Regions from separate parts of the Homo sapiens genome. Here regions 2 and 3 are each linked to region 1. The links come from fine-mapping of genetic effects on gene expression. A gene starts in region 1. Each other region holds a variant in brackets. All regions are shown on one strand. Distances are from middle to middle. Region 1 holds the start of REELD1 (reeler domain containing 1). Region 2 overlaps LSM6 (LSM6 homolog, U6 small nuclear RNA and mRNA degradation associated). Region 3 overlaps LINC01095 (long intergenic non-protein coding RNA 1095).

Region 1 (7,025 bases):
TAGGAAAAACATTTGGATAGGAAAGACTGTTCATGAGTTACAAAAGCCATTATCTTCATCTCCAAGATCTTTGAAAATGAAGAAAATGTCCACTTGTCTGCTGGAGTGAAGGAGCAGGAAACAGGACTAGAATAGTGAGCTCAACAGGTTCCTCCTTCATTTGCAAACTTTTCCAAGGCAGACTCTTAAACCAGGAGTGAGTGTGGGATGGTGTCAACGCAGGTTATAATTACGTGCCAGACTTTAATGCATGCCATCTCAAGCTGTTTTAAGAGTAGCTCATTCTTATGCCTTTATAACTAAAATAAAACCTTGAAAATGTGTATCATTTTCTTGCTGGAAGAAATAGAAGAGATTATTTAATTCAAACCTTTTTATTTTATACCTGAGGCAACCCAGAGAAGTTAAGTGATTTACCGAAGGACACAGAGTATCTGATTTATAACCATAAAACCCACCCCAAGACTTTCCCTTGGTATGACGTTAATATTAACTGTTCTACTCAGGGCCAGGGGATGTTAAGGTAACAGATTCAATCATGTTAATATATCAAGTCCAGCCAAATTGCTAGTGTGAAATGACCTCAAGCAGATTCCCAAAATAAAAGCAACAAACAAACAAAACACAGTATTTTCTTGCTTTCCGGGTGCACACAGCTGGGTCTCCTTCATGTGGGTGGGGATTGGAGGCCAACTCACTGCTGTCTCTCGGGCTTCGGGCTTAGCGCATGATCTGGCTCAGAGCCACACTCTCTCACCGCCTCCTCTCCGTGGTGGGCACCAACCCTCTCTGTGGCTCAGCCAGCTTTCTCTTTCCCCAGACAAAACAGGTACAGAGCCCTTCCTTTGTCTCAAACCCCATACTAAGTACCAACTCCTTATTATTTATTACCTCACTGAAACTTCACCAGCACTTCGGGATGCAGGTACAGGAACTGGTAGTTATCTTCATCTTGTAGATTATGTTACAAAGCTATTCTATAGCAAAACTGTAGGGAAAAACCTTATCTATCACTTCCTGAATGCTGTGGGAACTTTTGGCAAGTTACAGAAACACTGTGACTCAGTTTCCTTATCCATAAAATGAGATAACAATAGTGCAGACCTCATTGTGTTGCTGTATCGATGAGGTAATTTGCCAACTAGCTGACTAGAATAGTGTGTGGTACTGTGCAGGCATTATATAAATATGCTGTTATGTTTAATTACTATCCTGTCCCCTCAATGCCTCTTACACATCCTGCACGTGGTACAATACGGCCTCAGGTCTGACCCCACACCATGACCTATGGCTCAACCACCTTCCTTTGTACAGACCTGCGCTGATAAATATGGTAGCAGCTTACCACATGTGGCTCCGGAGCACTTGAGATGTGTCTAGTCTGAATTGAGACGTGCTGTAAGTGTAAAATACCACTGGATATCAAAGACTTACTGTGAAAAAAAGAATGCAAAATATCTCACTAATGATATTTTATATGCTGATTGCATGTGAAATGTTTTCAATATATTGAATTGACTAAATTTATTATTAAAACAAATGTCTTTTGTTCCTTTTCACGTTTTTTAAAAATAAGGAGAGTCCAATTTTTTTGTTTGTTTGTTTTTGAGACAGGGTCTCACTCTGTCGCCCAGGCTGGAGTGCAATGGCAAGATCTCAGCTCACTGCAACCTCCACCTCCCAGGTTCAAGCAATTTTCCTGCCTTAGCCTCCAGAGTAGCTGGAATTACAGGCACGTGCCACCATCCCTGGCTAATTTTTGTATTTTTTGGTAGAGATGGGGTTTCAACATGTTGGCCAGGCTGGTCTTGGACTCCTGACCTCAGGTGATCTGCCTGTCTTGGCCTCCCAAAGTGCTGGGATTACAGGCGTGAGCCCCTGCGTCCGGCCTAGAAAATTTTAAATTACATATGTGGCTTGCATTCTATTTCTATTGGCCAGCACTCGTATAGAGTAGCCTTGTATGTGTTCTTGGTCAGATTCCCAGGGAGAGTTTCTGTCTCAGCCCTGAGTCAGCAGGGCCCTCGCCTGTGATGAATGCCCCCCTGGTACAATCAGCTTTGTCGGGAGAGTGGCATAAGATGCGCTGCCGGCTCAGCAGAGGCTGTGGGTGTGGCAGGCAGGATAAGGCCATGTCTAAGATATGGTGTCCTCCTGATTTTCAACAAGAAATATTACATGAGCAAATGGCAGGATTATTTATTGAGCCATGCAGGTGCGCTCTCTCTACCTTTGCACTCCTCTCCTCATTCTAATTGGTAGTTGGGCCTTTTGAGAATCCGTATATCCAGGGAGTTTGTGTTTCAGGGGCAAAGCTGAGGTGTTGGAGATTACCACTCTACCTGTGGTAGGTGGATTATGCCAGGTGGCCCAGGGTAATGGGGTGAGAGTAAAAAAAAAAAGGAGAGGAGGGACACTTTTGTCTCTAAGACTGGGATAGGAGCAGAGTGGAGTGGAGAAGAGGTTAGCCACTCTCCTGCTAGGGGCAGAGATCTGTGTCAGGACCCAGTGGAGGGGGTGGGAAGAACCCAGGCCACAGCCTTGCTGAAGACCTGAGCCCCTTTTTGGCATAGAAGCCTTCCAACTAACAGTCTTCAAGTGACCACATGAGCTCTGAAAACTATCATAACAGCAGCCATGGAAGGAATGTATCCTAATTTTCTAGACCTCCCAGAATTTCTCATGACTCAGTGGGAGATTGAGATTGCCTCCAATCCTAGTGGGATAGAAGCTTAGAGAAACCAAATTGAATTTGTTTGCTTTTGTTCTGTGTGTGGGGAATACTGGTATCCTAGGCCAAGGAAGCCCAATTTCCCTTGGTGTTTATAGGATAGATAGTCTCATTTACACTTGCAACAAAAGGCTTAGCAACCTGGTCCCTAAGCCAGTGCCTTGCCTATTCAGTCACTCATAGCTTTAGTTTTTTCTGAGTGGAGACAAGGCCTAACAGTCAGAACATTGCTCTCTCTGCAGCCCCCTACTCCACATCACCCAGGACTATCAATCCTAGGATTCTCTCTTGGACGCCTTGCATTCAAACAGCCACCAAATCCTACCTCCACCTGATCTCCTGATCTCCCAAATCCATTCCTCTCTCTTTTTCTTCATTGTTAATGTTGCAAGCTTCTAGGTGATGCTGGTGTTGCACTCTAGGGACCACACATTGAGGAACACTGATCTATAGGCTCTCTGGTATTATCAGGTGTCTCAGCAGATTCTTAGATGAATGAAAATGTGAACTCCAGCTTTAGTGCAATTGATACGGGAGGTGCCTATGCCACGTGTTATTTTTTTGTACCAAACGTTGCTCTTGGGCTAACGTATCAATTCTATTTCACCAAGAGTAACTTCAGTCCACACTGACTCAAGAAGCCAAGAATGCTGAGATGCATTTCATTCAAACATTCTCCCCTTTGCAGGGAGATCAAGATGGAGGCATCCAGCTTCTGCCAAGGATGTCAGTGCCAGTCCTGTGCAAAACCAGTTCCGGTTCTTTCTAGTTCTTCACGCAGGCTTGAACAATGATGTGACTGTAAACCGTGTGTGTGTGTGTGTGTGTGTGTGTGTGTGTATGTGTGTGCTAATACGATTTAGGTTGGATTTGGACACTGAGGAACAGTTCCTGGAGATGCTGAGGATTAGTGGTAGCAGCTGTTATTCTCCCCATTAGAGGAAAAACTGAAAGGAGAAGAAAATACTTATGTTTAAGGGATGTGTTTGCAACTCTGCGGGAGGAAGCCATTCTATCAAGCCTGAAGAAAACTGTGTTCCTAGGTAAGTGGATGTTTTTATTTATTTATTTTTGTAGAGACAAGGTCTCCCTGTGATGCGCAGGCTGGTTTTGAACTTCTGGCTTCAAGTGATCTTCCTGCCTCGGCCTCCCAAAGTGCTGGGATTACGGGTGTGAGCCACCATGCTCAGCTCCAAGTGGATAGTTTTCAGGGTTCAGGTAGACAAGATGCTAGTGGGAAAGAAGACACAGTGAAACCTAAGGCAGGAGGGTGGGAGGTGGGGCTGTGGCCGTAGTCTGTGAGTCCAGGCACTCACTCCCCTTCCCTTGTAGGCAACTGTGTCTGATCTGCCTTTGGAAAGACCACTTGCCATCAGCAAGGACTTGAGGAGCATTTTCATTTCATTTCTTTCTTTTCTTTTAAGAGACAGGGTCTTGCTCTGTACCCAGGCTGGAGTGTAGTGATGTGATCATAACTCACTGCAGCCTCGACCTCCTGGATTCAAGTGATCCTCCTGCCTCAGCCTCCTGAGCAACTGGAACTATAGGTGCGCACCACCATGCCCAGCATTCAAGGGGCATTTTGTATGTGGCCCTTATGAAAGAAAATGAGAAGAACCCTGAGCCCCCTTGACTGAGAATGTGCTTTTACACAGTTCATCTTCATTATCTCCTAATGTGTCTGAGAAGCTGTAGCCATGGTTCCTTGTAGTATGGAGATGTGTGACTTTGGTGCTTCATAGAAAACAAACTTAGAAAAGAAAGGCATTGTCTGAAGGACTCTTATGTCTAAGAAATTTGAGGTATAGATCATATTCCTGTCTTCTTTTAGCTTGTGAATGTAAAAGGTGGTGTTGTGTGAAGAGACAATGGGAGTGGAGGACACTTGATTATTTGGTTTATGGATTATTTCCTTAGTCTATTGTTCTGATAGCTAGTTTTACTACATTTTCAGGATTTTATTTTCACCTTTTAAAACCAGCTGACTACAGGGGAGGGCATTTTTTTTTTTTTTTTTTTGCCTTGCATTGTTCCTTAGGTCAAAAAATTAGCCAAACTTCTAAAATGCCTGTGTGCAGGACTATAAAAAAAAAAACAGAACTTTTTTTTTTTTTTTTGAGATAGAGTCTCGCTCTTTTGCCCAGGCTGGAGTGCAATGGCATGATCTCAGCTCACTGCAACCTTGGTCTCCCAGGTTCAAGCAATTCTCCTGCCTCAGCCTCCCGAGTAGCTGGGACTATAGGCACATGCCACCACACCCAGCTAATTTTTTGTATTTTAGTAAAGACAGGGTTTCACCGTATTGCCCAGGCTGGTCTTGAACTCCTGTGCTCACGCAATCCACCTGCCTCGGCCTCCCAAAGTGCTAGGATTACAGGCGTGAGCCACCGCACCTGGCCTAAAACAGAACTGTTAAAAAATGCCTGTGATAATCCTAAATATTTATGTAGGCAGATTTTCATCTGCCTTGTTTGCTATCTCTCATTTTATTTTTGTCATCTTCTTTTACATTGCCAAATTTTAATTCTTCCTCTTGATGGGAATTAGAGGTAGTAAACAAAAATAAAATTTACTCTATAAATGCTATTTTATTCAATCATTGTATTCTATTCCTGAGCCAAAATTGTTATCAGTATGTTTAAGAAGTTATAGAATAAATTGAGTATTTCTTTCTCTGCTCATCTTCTTTACTAAAAGTAGTGAAATAGCTAAAAACAGCCAAAGAAAGGGCAAAGAGATATCAAAGCATTGCCAGCTTAACAGTCACTTCTAAATAATTGATAGTTGGTAGATGTTTTGTAGCACTTAACTTGGTAATTTTCAATTGCAACAGAGATAAGATGCTCAGCCAAGCCATCCCATGCCATGCTGCCTGACCATGGTGGTGTATTGAGTGTCTACTTCAGATAATGTATCAGAGGCCACACCGCCTTTGGGTACCAGTCAGCTTGCAAGGAGCTCACGCTAGGATACAAACATTTTCTGGTTTTATTTCTTTGACTCAATAATTAAAGCCTCTCTTTTGAACAACAACAAAAAAAGCAGTCTGGTCTTATGAGAAAATTACAAGAACAGAAGTTTTTAAAAAGGTGTTTGGAAATGAAACACTTCCTATAGCCTGGCATTTCCTTTTGATCTTGGCCTTGAACATTAGCAATCCTGGGAGGCTGCACTAAAAGCATCTCAGGTACAGAGGCAGTGTGGGGTTCAGGTTAGTCACATCCCGAGAAGACTTTATGTCGTTTTCCTAAATAACGTCTGGACTGAAGCTGCTGTTTGTCATGATACAGGAGAGGGCAGGATGAGGATGCAGGCTGCCCTCGTGGGCTGGGCTTGTACCACCCTCTGCCTGGCTTCCTGCTCATCTGCCTTTTCCCATGGTGCCAGCACGGTGGCCTGTGATGACATGCAGCCCAAGCACATCCAAGCCCAGCCTCAGCACCAGGACAGCCACCACATCACCATCCACACCCACAGGACTTCCTATGCACCAGGTGACAAGATTCCAGGTATGTACCAGAGAGGCTTAGAGAGACTCCGAGGAGCCCCAGAGCCCCCATGGACCTTCCAGTTTGTGTTTGTCCCAGTCAGAAGCTTCCTGGACTAAATTTGGCTTAATCCCTTTTTTTTGTTTTTTGTAGAGATGGAGTCTCACTGTGTTGCCCTGGCTGGTCTGAAACTCCTGGGCTTAAGTGATCCTCCCACCTCAGGCTCCCAAGAAGCTGGGACTACAGGCACATGCCACTGTGCCCTGCTAATTTTTTGTATTTTTTTTAGAGACAGGGTCTTTGTATGTTGCCCAGTCTGGTCTCGAGCTCCTGGGCTCAAGTGAACCTCCTGATTCAGCCTCCAAAAGTGCTGGGATTACAGGCACAAGCTACCATGCCCAGCCTGGCTTAATCTTAAGAAGCAATTATCAGGTTAAAAATAAGCATAAAATATTTGTGTCATAAAAACCACATGATAACTAATCTCTGTATTAATTGTGATCTGTATAAGAAGACACAAATATTATTATAGATAATTATTTTGTCCTTACCATAAGATATAAATGTATCTTATTACGGACACAAATATAGTTACTCTGAACAACCTTCATGTATCATCTATGTGTGTGAAATACACTTTTTTCTCATTATTTAAAACTAAAATTCATCCATCAACAGACACTTTGGTGAGATGATGGATATTTTAATTTGCTTGACTATAGTAACCATTTCACTATGTGTAAGTATATCAAAACATCATGTTGTATACTTTAAATATATACAATTTGACATTTTTTAAATTAAAA
Region 2 (7,025 bases), 33 kb before region 1:
GGCTGGACAGGGATTTTGCTTGGCACTGGCCTTGAATGTCTCTTCCACAGACTTGGGTAGTGTGCTTAGGTACCAGGGACACCAAGTGAGTAAGATATTTTCCCTGTCCCCAAGAAGCTTTAAATTCGCACGGGAGACCAGTCAGCAAATGGAAAAATTACGAAACAGCCTGATAAGGGCCATGACTGAGAGTGGAAAGAGGTGCTCTGAGTGGACTCACTTCGCCTTTGGGAGAGAGGGAGAGAAGTAGCCCCTGCTGCCGAGGAAGGAGGGATTGGTATGAAGCCTTCAAAAGACAGCGAGGAACTCCACTGTGTCCGAAGGGAGGATTTAGAGAGCTGTTCTTCTGCCTATCTGATCGCCTCCTCAGACACTGATCTATTAGTCTAGTGCTGCAATTACTTGGATTGTAATGTTTCCTTGCAATTTTTGCTTTTCAAATTCTTTTCACCCTAAACTGTAAATACGCCAGGAGTAGGTAAAAACTTACAGGTAAACATTGCCAAGAAATAAGGATTTTCATGTCTTCTGCTCAGTGGCATAACTCAAATCACATGAGATAGATTTCTTTGCATCTGTCCATTGTATTTCTCTGAGGCTAATTTACAGCACTTTGTCACGTTAGGTATTTTTTTTCCCCAGTGCTGCTACTCTCCAACTGGATTTCTCACCGCCTCTATTGCGATTCCCCAAGATTTAACCAGAGAATCTTAACATATTCAGAAGGGCAGCTGTACCTGTGAAAGGGCTTGGGCTTTGGGGTCAGCCTTGGCTTTGCTTTCCACCTCACAGGGTTTCTCTGTAAATTGCTTATGAATCTAACTCTGGTAGCACATAGTTGGGTTAATAAAAGTTCTTTTTTTTCTTCATTCTTTTACCAAAAAGAAAAAAATTCCCTGCAGGGCACTTTGCAGATGTTTTCATACTAGACCTCTCAGTAGCTTCTGACAGAAAATATACTGCCTTTGACTTAATAGTCATTTATGAAAATAGGTCATTTAAAACAAGCCTGAGTAGGAGTCAGGGGAGGGAGAGGAGGTATAGAGAGTGATTATGACTTTAATTTTGAAAGGAGAAGTTTTACCAGGGTGACCCTGAAGAAAGGTCTTTTTCCTCTTATGTGTTTATGGTTCAAGAGACTCATCTCTTGCTTCAGAAATTGTCAGAACTGTTTCTTCTGCTTTATCCAATTTAAAAGATGAAAACTTAAAATTACTTGAGCCAAGTGATGGGAAAAATTGTGGTGTCAAGACCAATTTACTCATACAAAATGGATTTATGGGCAAGTCATTAAGTAACAGGGAGTAGCAAGGAAGCCTAATGAAGACTAATGTAAAAGATACGGCTTTCCTAAAGTGATGGATAAAATGTGTTTGAGGCAACCCATATACTCTTTTCCAAATAACCTTAGAAGTATTTTTTTTCCAAGAGGTTTAGTAGAATGTAGATATTCTAGAGAACAGATGAGAAGCTTGTGAGCCCCTCTTGTCATGTGGCTTACAGTATTTTGAGGGAGAAAAGACCCACATAAAGAATACAAAAGAGGGCATAGTGACAGGTTATAGCAAATAAAATCAAATGCCAAACTATGTGATGCCAAAAGTAGGTGAGATGGGCATCTGCACTCTGCTATGGAAAGTAGAGAGTGGAACCCAAGCAAGTTCCTGCTTAAAACCCCTGTTTCCTATCATTGACAACAGTATTTCCCCTTGCCAGTTATTTCCTAGGCTTGTTCAAATAGATTGCTGGCTCCTACCCCAGAACTACTGAGTAGAATCTCCAGCTGATCCTAATGATTCAAGTTTGGGAAACTGACCCAGAGCCTCAACTCTGTGCTCCCTGTGAATGTGGCACAGCTCCCTGCCGCAGAGGCGTCTCCTCCTTGCCTATGTAGATTTTACGTTCTACCCAGACACTTGTTCCGTGCCTTTTCTGACTTCTCTTCTTTCAGCTAGGGGGTGACGCCTTTTCCTTCAAATTCAGCTCAGGTGTTAACTTCCAGAAATTCTTTGATCTGCCAAGCCTGGGGTAAGAGAGTGTTCTCTGCCCTTTTGTGCATAATTCTATCAGAATACACATCACCTTTGTAAAATTCTGCATTTACATGTTTCTTGCCCTCTCTGGAATGTAAACTCTGAGGGCTTAAGGCCTTGTCTTTGTGTTACATTCCCCAACCCTGTGCGCCTGAACTTGACAGGTGCTCCGTGAAAGTTGGAAGTGTTGATTGCCTTCAGGAAGAGATTGATGTTAATTGGAATACAGATAAAGCATAATGGACAAGGCGTTATCTTTGGTGAGCTTAGAAGAACATATCTGTGTTTATAAAAAGGTGTGGAAAGTTAATATTAATAATACTTTTAAAATAACCTATACTGTCAAGCAACTGATAGTCAAGATTTGCATTCTTTTTTCTGACAGTTATTAACTCTTTCCAGCTTTTGCTTTTCAAATGTTTTTAATCTGAAACTGTAAATACTCTATGAGCAGATGAAATTAGTAATAATTAAAGTAGTTAATATCTCCATGAACTAGAATCACATTACAAAGCATTTTAGTGATTTTTAACACAAAATAGCTACTTTTATCTCAGTTTTATACATAATGAAACTGTGGCATAATGGGATTTAGCATCTGTGATAGGAAATGCACCTGACTCATCAGTTGAGTATCAGGCCTTCAGAGTTAATATTCTCTCTAGATGTGTTCAGCCTCAAAACAGCATGTATTCAAAATGTAAATAAGGCGGTTTATAGATGAATGGGAAGATTTGTGTATTTTCACTAAACTCATTAAAGGTACTGAATCTGTTACAGTATTTATTTTGTATTTTTTCACTTTGTACTCAGAACAGTGTAAATAAAATTACTGTGTGATCTGAGTCCTGAATGAAAAGTGGTTGTCCTGAATAGTAGTTGTAATAGTAGTTGTAATTGTAGTTATCTGTTGAGATTGTGGAGCTAATAAAATAAGCTAGAAATTCAGTGGAAAAGTTAAGTTAACATTTGTTGAGCAAAATAATTTATTGCATTTTAAAAACATCTTTCAAACCTTGGGGGCAGTGTAGATTGTCCAAATGATAGCCCAAAATTCAAAGATAATTTCTGAAATTTGTATTTTCTTTTATTTGACTTAGGATGTTGACTTTTCTTGGCTAAATAAAATTATTTTACTTAAATTATGATTGCGTTTGTTTACTCACACTCTTTAAATGAGTTTAAATTCTTCTAGATTTTAAGTTCTTTAAGGCAGAGCCTTTGTGTATGACATGTTTTTGAATTTCCTTGCTCAGTGTGTACATGTACATGTAATTTGTTGAGCCCAGTAACCTAGAGTTCCAGCTTACTACAACTGCTGATCCCGTGTGAATTCACTATGAGAACGTCTCCAAATAATCCTTCTCCACACAAACTCAGATTATTGAGTGGATGGACTTAGAATGAAATAAGCATAGTGGAAGAATGTTTAATGAAAAAATAATGGAAGAATATTTAATGAAAAAATTTCATTGAAAACAAAAGAACAGCTTGAGTTCTTGAAGGGAATCCTTAAAATATTGTATCCATACTAA[C/T]TTTTAAGTCTCAGTGCTATATAGCTGCTGAATAATAGTGATGCTGAATTTGACTGAAACAGAAAAATTAATTTCTGAAATATTTTTACTCAGTTTTTGCTTAACTACAGTTTTATTAACTTACCAACATATTTTGAAAGAGAGCTATTTTATAAGAAAAGATGCGTTTTGAAAGGAGTGATGTGCAGCTTTGCATGTCTGATGCTGTTGATTTGGGTGTGTAATGCTATCTCTTTTTCTGTGTTAGACTCCTGTTATACTTGAGTTTTAAGACTTTTTTCTTCATTATTTAGAGCACATATCTGCTATAGTCCTAATAGAGTAATTAAAAATCTTTGACTGTGTTATTGACTTTCAGAAAGCTGTTTAAGGTTGTGATTAAGAGTATGGGCTGGCTATCCACTTTCTAGCTGTGTGACCTTGAGCAGAGTGTTTAATCTTTCTGTGTCTTCTTCTTCATGTGTAAAATGAGGATAAAAACAATACCTCCCTTTTAGGGTAGAGCAATTTAAATTGATTAATATATATAAAGTTCTTGGAAAAGTGCTGGCATATAGTACACTCAAAATTACCTTTAGATTATAATTCTTTTCAGAGATACCATTTAGGCATCAGTTGTTCATAAATATGTCTGTTCTATATAATACGGACTTTAAAATAGGGCTGATTTGAACTTGAATGTTCCATCACATTTGGGAACAAATTATTTAATCTTTCTGTGCCTTTACTTTTCATCAGCAAAATGAGGGTATTAAGACCTTCTTCCCATGGTTCTTGTAAAGATGAAATGTGATAGTGTTTATAAAGACCTTAGCAGAATGCTTTGCATAAAATAACCAACCACTCACTGAATGGAAGTGGTAATGGTTGTAATGGGTATACTGACTATGTGTCAGGCAGTAATGATAAGTGATTAAGAGCAGGTGCTTTTGTAAACACAGGACTTTCCCTAATGAGACTGTGCCATGGTGTTGTGGGTACTGATAAGATAATGCATGTAGAATGTTTAGCTTAGTATCTGGCTCATAGTAAGTACTGAAAACATGTTAGCTGTCATGTAGTAGCAGTGGAGTAATACGCGTCTTCTCGCATGGTCCTTTGATACTTCATTTTCTGTAAGTATGTTAAGGGCTTTAAGGGTTTTGTTGAATAATCAACTTTGGTCTTTACCTTTTATTGTTCCTTTTCATATTTTGATTTAGGATTGTTAAAATGAGTCTTCGGAAGCAAACCCCTAGTGACTTCTTAAAGCAAATCATCGGACGACCAGTTGTGGTAAAATTAAATTCTGGAGTGGATTATCGAGGTAATATTTTCATGTTTCAACCTCACTGGTATAACTGAATAAGTAAATGTGACTTACTGATATTTATTAACCTCTTAAGTATACCCAATAGGCCAAAAAAGTACTGGTCATCAGTAGTTTTTATGCATATATCTTTTTCTATCTCTGAGATCATTCCTTTTAGAAGGACAACTCTGACAGTATAGCATGTGCTTCTGCCTTTCAGTGTGATTTGTGTGACTTCTGTCTCCTGTCTCTGCTTTGAGATCATATGTGCCTAAATTCCCTGGTAATAGCTAGGTATTCCTAGTGAACTCAGGTATGAACAACACAACTGAAGAACATCTTGGTGCAGCAGCATTTGTTTTTGCAGGAGTATTCAAGATTGGCAAGCAGCTGTTGAGTATCATTTTACAACCTGAATGTCCCACTCATATAACGTATAATGTGTGTGGCAACAGGGTGAGACTCTGTCTCAAAAAAAAAAATGCCTTTCTGTTCTTGGAGAGAATATTATTTTTAAGAGGCTGCAGTGCTTTTGAAATTAACTTTATAGGAAGAATGGTTTTAAATTCCGTTTTTTAAAGTTACTGAATTTCTTATCTTCCAAGCTAAGGTATGTTAAGTTACCTGAAATATTTGGCAGGTGTAACTATAACTGATTCATTAGCAGAGGGACGTGGTCTCTTGGGTTGCTATAACAGAATACCACAGACTGGGTCATTTTTATTTTCATTTTTTGTATTTTTTTTATTATTTATTTCAGTAGTTTTTGGGGGTACAGGTGGTTTTTTTGGTTACATAGATACGTTCTTTAGTGGTGGTTTCTGAGATTTTGGTGCACCCGTCACCTGAGCACTGTACTGGGTAATTTTCTTTTTTTTTTTTTTTTTTTTGAGACGGAGTCTCGCTCTGTCACCCAGGCTGGAGTGCAGCGGCGCGATCTCGGCTCACTGCAAGCTCCGCCTCTAGACTGGGTAATTTTCAAAAACAGAAGTTTATTTTCTCACAGTTCTGGTGGCTAGGAAATCCAAGATCAAGGTGCCAGCAGGTTCAGTTGTCTGGTGAGGGCTACGTCCTCCAGAGAGGAGGAATGCTGAGTCCTCACGTGGCAGAAGGCAGAGGGCAAACCAGCACACTGCGTGAAGACTTTTTTTTAATGCAGGCCTTCATCCCATTAATGGGCAAGTCCCCATGGTCTGCTTGCTTCTTAAAGGCCCCCACCTCTTAATACTCTCCTATTGCCAAACACCTGAATTTTGGAGGGGACACATTCAAACCATAGCACAGGTTTTTGTGGCCTTTTTTTGGTCTCTTTTCTGAATAATTAATAGTCATAGTAATCTCTTGAGCTTTTTCCTTTGAAATCTCTATTGATTATCCCCACCTAGTAGAGGAGGAGCTAGGACTCAAGTTCAGGCTCGGCTCATAAGCCTTGTTAAGAAACCACTCTGGTGATTATGTACTCCTTTAGCTTCTTGACATTAATAACGTATCTCCAGTTTAATTTTATTTTTATAGTAAAATTAATGGATTCATACGGAATACTGAGGTAGTATAATGTCTCCGTGTACTGCCTCTCACCTGCGAACTTTTGATGATGGGCCCATAGGAAGTAATAGACTTCTAGGGGTTTTAATCTGTTTGACAGTTGATTAAAGTGAGGACATTGTGTTCAATGTCTTCTCAGTACCCACTTTATTGAAGAGATGAACCAGCCTGACCTTTTTTCTCTGTACTCTTTAGGGAAAATTTTTCTATTTATAAAGGCAATACATGTTTTAGTTTTGTTTTAATTTTAGAAATGTAAAAGGAAATAATACAGAAAAGTATATAGAAGAAAGCCAAGGATCCCCAATGCTACTATCCAGAGACAGTTTACCAATTTTGACCTCTATATTAGCATAATTTGACATAAATGGAGTCAACTACATGCAACCTGATTTTTTTTTTAAACGTTGAAACAGTACATTTAGTTTTGTAATAATATAGAGGGTTTAATGGCTGCATAGGAATCTCTTGTGTGGCTGTACCATGGTTTTGCTTTTACTGTTAACCAATTTCCTATTAATGGACATTTAGGTGTTGACCAGTTTTTTGCCACTATAAACAACTCTTCTACTTTGACATATATTGTGAAGTTGACCAAACATCTCTTTAGAATCAATTCCC
Region 3 (7,025 bases), 100 kb before region 1:
TGAAAATTAAAGGAACAATGTATGATCACCTCATAACCCAGTGTCTCCCACAGGCTTATTTTGAATATCTGTGGTATTAAAACACTCATACTAAAACATAATAAAAGAGGAAGTAATGATTTGTTGAATTTAGAGGAAGAAATAATGACAAGGAAAGCCAAAAGTAGCACAACAAGCTCTGTATTTAGGCTCATATATCCATTCTTGCCAGAGCCGCTAAGTCAGAGCTGGGGTGGAGAACAACTGGCCAAAGTCCATTACATTCCATCTAATGATAGGTCTGTTGGCAGGTGGGGGGAGGCTATCAGCAACTCACCTTGTCCAGTACCCTCCTGTTATAATACAAAGCTCCAGCTCAAACTGAAAACTTAAAGTACAATCAGCCAGATCCACCTTCTAATGACTATGATGTTTAAAGCATCCACAAAAGTGAAATTCAAATTATTGATATGTTTTAGTAGCACCATCCGTAATTTCACCTAAACATAAAGAAGAAGCAAAACAGGAGCAGGAAAGTCAGTCTATGATAAAAGCTCCCATTTATCACAGGCCTCCTATGAGTTAAGTACTGTTTATTTGCTATTTCTAACGCATATTGCAACTTACAAGGCAGTCCTGTTCTCCTTCACAAATGAAGCATCCACAGCACAATTGGTGACTTCACAAAGGTCCCATGGCTCCTAGGTGGGAAGCCGCCAGAAGGCAGATCTGATTCTAAAGCTGCTGTCTGCATGCCAGGCTAGTACAGCTCTCAATCTGGGATCAGGAAAGAGAGGTACCACATGTGGTCAAGGAGCTCCCACATCCCCAGGAGTCCAAGGGTTGCCATTCTTCCTCCTTCTGTCTCTGTGATGTCACCACTACAATGTTGTCATATTGTGAACTGTTCTGGTAAGTTACAAATTTTTCCACAGAAAAGAAGAGAAAGGGCTACCCAAAAAATGGGAGAGGAAAAACTAATCGTAAGTCTTCAGAGCTAAGTGAAGTTAAGAACCTGACCTTGGATGGGGGTATCCTAACCCAGCGGTGGCCTTAGTCACGTCATACTTCTGCTTCGCAACTGATCCCAGATACAGACACAGTCTAATTGAAAAGAAGGAGTTATCTGGTTGTGAGGTGTATTAACTTCTTAGGTGAAGTAAAATGCTTTGAAACAAGGTGAATTTTAAAAATCAGATATCTTGATTCAAATCCGGTCTTTGCCACTTAATAACTGTGTGATTAAGCCTCATCTACTTATCTTCTAAATGAAATTAATAGTATTTACTTCACTTTTCTCATCTCTAAAATGGTGATAATAATACCTATCCTCCTAGCATGATGGTAAGGATGAAGTGAGAATAAAAGCTAGCATGTAGAAAATAGTAACCGAAGTTACCTATTGATAATTTTCTGTGATTATCTTAATTAGCTACAGTATAGCATTCTTACATGAAGTACCTGGATGTGGTAAATAATCAATAAACAGCAGCTATTATTATTAACAGGGCACATTTTTGTATTGGTGCAGGTCTGCTGGTGGAAATAAATGAAAGGAGGAGAAATCCTGTGTGTGACAGCACAAATGCAAAAATAAAACCAAAAACAACAATAAGAAAGCAGAAGTGGAAGGAAAAGAATCTTAGCTTGAGTCAACCAACTTGTTACCAGAATTCAGTTATTAAAAATCTCTATAGTGTAAATTTAGCCTTTAGAATTTAATTTTTTTAACTTTCTCTTTTGTTTTTACCAAAGTCCACTTTGAAGAGTCCAGTCTTCACTGGACCAAGGAAGAAAGGAAAATAAATTTAAATTTTTATGTATTTAGTTAGTTTTGCTTTGTAAAAGAGAAGAATCCAGCTCAGGTTCTTAACTCCACTCACCTCTAAAGAATTCCCAGTCATATTTCCCTCTCCCTTTTTGGGTGATGCTTTGTCTATGTCTATGGTAGAGGAGAAATGGGGAAGAGACACTGCAGGGGTGATGAGGACAGAATTTAGAGCACTGTAGAGAGAGGGGAGATTCTGGGGAGAGAGTGAGAGGGTCCTTGTGCAGTGATCCTTCTCCTTGGAATGGTTTGTCCCTAAAAGCTACTCTGCTTCTTTCCTGTCAGGGATGTTAGCAGAGCTCAAATCCTTATGAACCCAAACTCCCAAGCCACTGGATCCGGTGAGATGGCTGGAACTCAGCAGGGTCAGCATGAGGAACACCGCGAGGACTGCTGAAACACCACATTCCCATGGCTGCCGCAGGACAGCGGGGTGGCTGGAAGGCACAGTGTCTGTGAAACTGTGGTCCTCGGCAAGGGGTGTGACCTCATGGTGGGTCGCCTGACCTATGAGCAGAGATGGAAGGAAGAATGCCAATTTGGAGGCAGATGTGGGAAGTAGGAGTGCTGTGGCAACACGGTGTGGAAATAGGGAGTTCTCTTCAGGCGTGATGCTCACAGTTTACATAAATCTATTGATCTATGTATTTACCTGCCTACCTCTATGTGTGCGTTTGTCTGGGTGTGGGGTGGAGCAGTGTGAGGTGGGTTCAGGAACCGTGTTTGTGAGGGCTGTCTGGGGAGACAGAACCAATAGGAGCTATATCTGTACTGATATTGGTATCTCTACTGATATAGATAGATGAGAGGGGATGTATTAGGGGAATTGGCTCACACGACCTTGGTGACTGAGAAGTCCCACCACAGTCCATCTGCAAGCTGGAGACCCTGGGACGCAGGTAGTGTGGCTTCACAGCAAGTTCAAAGACCTCAGAATCAAGGGAGCGTATCTGCCCTAAGGATGAGATCGGGAAAAAGCCTGCAAGCATGTGTTTGAAAGGAGGTGAGAGAGGAAGATCAAGAAGGGTTTTCCCAAGTTACGGTTGCAACGCAAGAAAGGGAAAGGTGAGAAGAGGGACCCGAGCCCAGGCCTTGGGAGGAAGAGGAGGAAGAAGAGGGGTGTGGGCCCGACCCCGAGAGCAGACCAGGGCTGCGGTCAGAGCTGGTCGCCAGATGAGGACGCCTGGGCAGCTGGCCTGTGCCTGAGCAGAGGTGGCTGAGGTCCAGGAGGCAGAGAAGAAGAAATGGAGCCTCGCACCGCTGCTCCTAGCTTGCCCAGAGGGAGAAGGGTGATGGGGCTGTTCCTATGCACTCAGGACCGTGGCTCTTGAACTTTATGTGTCGGGAAGGAGGCAAGGGCTGAACTGGAGAGTGGGCCATTCATTTAGTTCCAGCGTCCCAGGAAATGCTCTTTTCCCCGCGGGAGCCTCTGCCTGCAGCTGTAATGACCTTGGACTAGAAGGTCAAACTCCAAAGGCTTGAAACCGCACCTGCAGCAGGACTGGCCACCTACGTTGTGGGGTATCTTTAAAATAAAATGCTGCACTGTCCTGCAACTGTCAGTCTGAAGCAGAAGTCCTGAGTGCCCAGGGGCAACTGGTGTAAGTCCTGGAGTTTGAAGGTCATAGAGCCTGGAGTCCAACCGCAGGAGGAGAAGAGTGTCCCTGCTCCAGGAGAGAGAGAGAGA[A/G]AAAAAAAAATCTCTTTTTGTGTATGTGCTGTTGTTGCCTTTTTTGTTCTTATCTGTGCCCCCAGCCATTTGGATGATGCCCCCACATTGAGGACAGGTCTTCCCCACTCAGTTTACTGACACACACTCCAGTCTCCTCTGGAAACCATCTCACAGACACACCCAGAAAGAATGCTTTACTAGTTCTCTAAGTATTCCTTAATCCAGTCAAGTTGGCACCTGAAATTAACCATCCTAGGGACACTGCTATTTTTAAATCTACCTAGAATTTGCACCTCTGACTCTAGAGATTGAGGCAGAATTCATTTTCAGGGAGACTATCCTTTTGATTTGAAAAACACCGATATAAGCTCTTTAGTTAAACAAAGATAGGGCCATGCTTCTATTCTGGAAGAAACAGATTAAGATGGAGCAAAGCTAAGCTGCTCATCAGAGATTTTTTTTTTCTCTAATATATTTTATGGCTTCCTCAGGAAAGAAGCAGGCCAGGGAAGAGTGGAGATGGGCAGAGTGGTGATAAAACAGGGGGCTCATGGAGAGGAGGAGAAATGGACTTTAGCACCACAGTGGCAGGCAGGAGCTTAAGAGCAGAGTTTAATTCCAAGGGATTCCTTCGATGGGGTTATGACCAATCTGCTTTAGGAGCAGTGATACAGAATTTTCTATCTCCCTTTTGGTGGTGCTGTGGTTTGGATGTTTGTACCCCAAAAAACTTCATGTTGAAATTTGATCCCAGTGTTGGAGGTGGGACTTTATGAGAGGGGTTTGGGTCATGGAGGAAGATCCCATATGAACTGATTAATACTCTCCCTCAGGGGTGAGTGAGTTCTCATCTCATTAGTTCCCGATCCAGCTGGTTGTTACAAAGAGCCCGGCACCCTCACCTCTCTTTTGCTTCCTTTCCATATGATCTCTGCATACACTAGCTTCCTTCCTCTCGTGTCGTGAGTGGAAGCAGCCCAAGGTCCTAATGGCAGATGCCTAATCCTGAACCTTCCAGCCCATCAGAATAGTAAGCCAAATAAATCTTTTTTCTCTGTAAGTTACCCAGCCTCAGGCATTTCTTGATAACAACGCAAAATGGACTAAGGCATGTGGTATGACTCCTCATGTTATTCTCAAACCCTCAGTAAAGTTTTGTCACTCTCTATGGCTGGTGTCAGCCATGTTGGAATAAAGAGAGGAGCTGGTGTCCACAGGGGGCAACCGATTAACAGAGAGATAAGGTTGGGAGATGACAAGAGGAAGCACGGAGCTGGTGTAAGCATTCCCTGACAAATCTTCAGAAGTTCTTGCAAAAGAAGACTACATGTTTCTTGTTCACACAGGATGGGATTCACAATATTTGAGGGAGGGATATTGTCATAGACATTGGGGGTACCTGGTAGCACATGAACCCACTTTTTATGTTTAGGGATGTCCTCACTGTATGAGTCTCCATGAGGGTTAGAGACCTCCACTATGGAGGTCAAATAGGCCAGAGACTTGTTTTTCCAGCCTCCTGCCCTGGAGAGGGGGCATGTGACCTAGGCTTGGCCAGTCAGGCACCACCCCAGGACTTTGCATTGGAAGCTAGTGAACCGATGAAGAGGAGTGGTAGAGAGTCTATTCTGAGGAGTGGGGTGGTGGGGTAGAAGGCAGCTAAAGCCTCCAGTTTCCTGGGGCACAAGAGAGAGTAGGATTGGTAGCATTATTTAGTTGAGAACATCCAAGAAGCAGATGCCAAGATGGGATTCGAGATTTATTAGGGAAAGAAATTCATTAGGGAAAATGGCTCTGGAGGATAAAGAGAAAGGGAGTGGGAGTTGGAGAGAGCCATTAGATTGGGAGACAGGTCTAACAACTGTAAAAGGATAATGAGAAACAAAGAATGGTGGGAAGAGCCTCAGAGTGCAGCAGAATTCTGAGACAATCTTGGCTTGGCCAATGGAGAGTCTCCAGGCAAAAGCTGCTGTGTTCATTTTTCTATTGCTGCTGTAACAGGTTACCTGACCCTTTGAAGCTGAAACCAACACAATGATCATGTTGTATTGTATATCTGTAATTTGCTAAGAGGGTAGATCCCAAGTGTCTTTACCATACCAAGAAATAAAAATAAAAAATAAAAAAGAATGGTAACTATGTGAGGTGATGGAAATGTTAATTAGCTTGATTGTGGTGAGGAACACAAATTTATTATCTTACAATTCTGGAGGTCAGAAGTCTGACATTAGTGCTAAAATCAAGGAACTGACAGGATTGCTTCCTCTGAGAGCTTCAGGAGAGCTGGGGCCTGCCCTTTTCAGCTTCTAGTGACTGCCAGAATTCCTTGGCCTGTGGCTGCATCACTTCAATCTCTGCTTCGGTCATCACCTCTCCTACTTCTCCCTCTGATCGCCTGCATCCCTCTTATAAGGACCCTTGTGGTTACACTGAGCCCTAAGTAATCCGGGATACTCTTCCAAGATTACATGTGCAAAGTCCCCTTTGCCCTATAAAGTAACATTCACTGGTTTCCTCTGCTGGTGGCAAGTGCAAGCTCTGATGTCCAGTGTCTAGTGCTATTAGCAGCAGTGCCCATTGCTCATGTTCTTGTGGCATGATTTGTACTTGGGTTCTAGATACCTAGAGTCTCTCTTCTTCTACCTGTTTTCTGAACCTTCTCAAAATTTCCTGGTGTTTCTGTGAGCTCCTTGGTCATCTTTTAATAAACTTCTTTTCTACTTAACTCAATCAGAGTCAGTGTGGCTGATCATTGTTAGGTTTGGTGAAAACAGGAGGCTCTGTTCCTAAAAGGAAAAGGGGAAATAATTGCTCTAATTTTAGAGACTAAATTTTCCAACCTTCCTTGTGGCCAGGCATGGCCATGTGACTAAATTCTCATCAGGGAAATGTGAGCAGAAGTGATGTGTCTAACCTCCATGTCACTTCTTCAAAAGGAACTCCTATGCACAATCCTTCCTTCTTTTCTCCCCTCTTCTGGGTTCAGTATGTACATGGTATTGGGGAGTCAGCTTGCTTCAGTGAATAAGAGCAACATTTGAGGAGATGACAGGGCACCTAGAAAGATGGAACAAGGCTCTCTGGATGATTTTATGTAGCAGAACCACCTTCCTATGTTTGTGGGTCTGTGTTCTTGTGGGTTGTTATGTGAGAGAGAAATAAGCCTATATTGGTTGAGCCACTGTCTTTGGGGGTCTCTTTTGAAAGCCACCAGCCTATTCTAGGTTTAGTGTGACCTAATGAAAACAGCCAATTTATGTCTAATATTCCTGGCTAGTTCAGATATAAGAACCAGGAGTGATTCCAGCATCTCAGGGAAGGGGGAGAAGGAGGGATTCTGGGAGTAATTGTTGGGAAAGTTGGGGATGAGGGCAGTAAAATTTCAGTAGTAGTATTTAAGAATGAGAATTTGTTAGTCTATGACATGCAGGGGTAAGACAATGACATTTTAGGGGTCTGAGTAGCCACTGCCACTGAATAGCATAGGTGGAAAGAGTCACACAAGGAGGCTATGGGGTGAAGTAATTAATACTAACAGTCAGGAGTAGC

The links. PIP is the estimated chance that this variant, and not a neighbour inherited with it, causes the effect.
Region 2: its variant is the best candidate, but not a certain one, in a credible set for the expression of REELD1 in whole blood (INTERVAL, PIP 0.81).
Region 3: its variant is the best candidate, but not a certain one, in a credible set for the expression of REELD1 in whole blood (TOPMed, PIP 0.86).

Annotation. Positions count from the first base shown.
Region 1 is chr4:146,210,921-146,217,945 of GRCh38, forward strand. REELD1 (reeler domain containing 1) reads left to right here and starts at 3,618. Exons shown (of 8, transcript NM_001354631.1): 1 at 3,618-3,774; 2 at 4,156-4,278; 3 at 6,022-6,240. The coding sequence starts at 6,033.
Region 2 is chr4:146,178,142-146,185,166 of GRCh38, forward strand. LSM6 (LSM6 homolog, U6 small nuclear RNA and mRNA degradation associated) reads left to right here. Exons shown (of 4, transcript NM_007080.3): 2 at 4,771-4,874. The coding sequence starts at 4,781. Among named protein-coding and RNA genes, the nearest start is that of LSM6, 5.9 kb to the left of the region's middle. The variant C/T (reference allele first, on the strand shown) is at 3,569.
Region 3 is chr4:146,110,995-146,118,019 of GRCh38, forward strand. It overlaps LINC01095 (long intergenic non-protein coding RNA 1095), which reads right to left. Exons shown (of 6, transcript NR_038331.1): 2 at 3,298-3,471; 3 at 2,648-2,762; 4 at 607-756; 5 at 317-479. Among named protein-coding and RNA genes, the nearest start is that of LINC01095, 7.4 kb to the right of the region's middle. The variant A/G (reference allele first, on the strand shown) is at 3,495.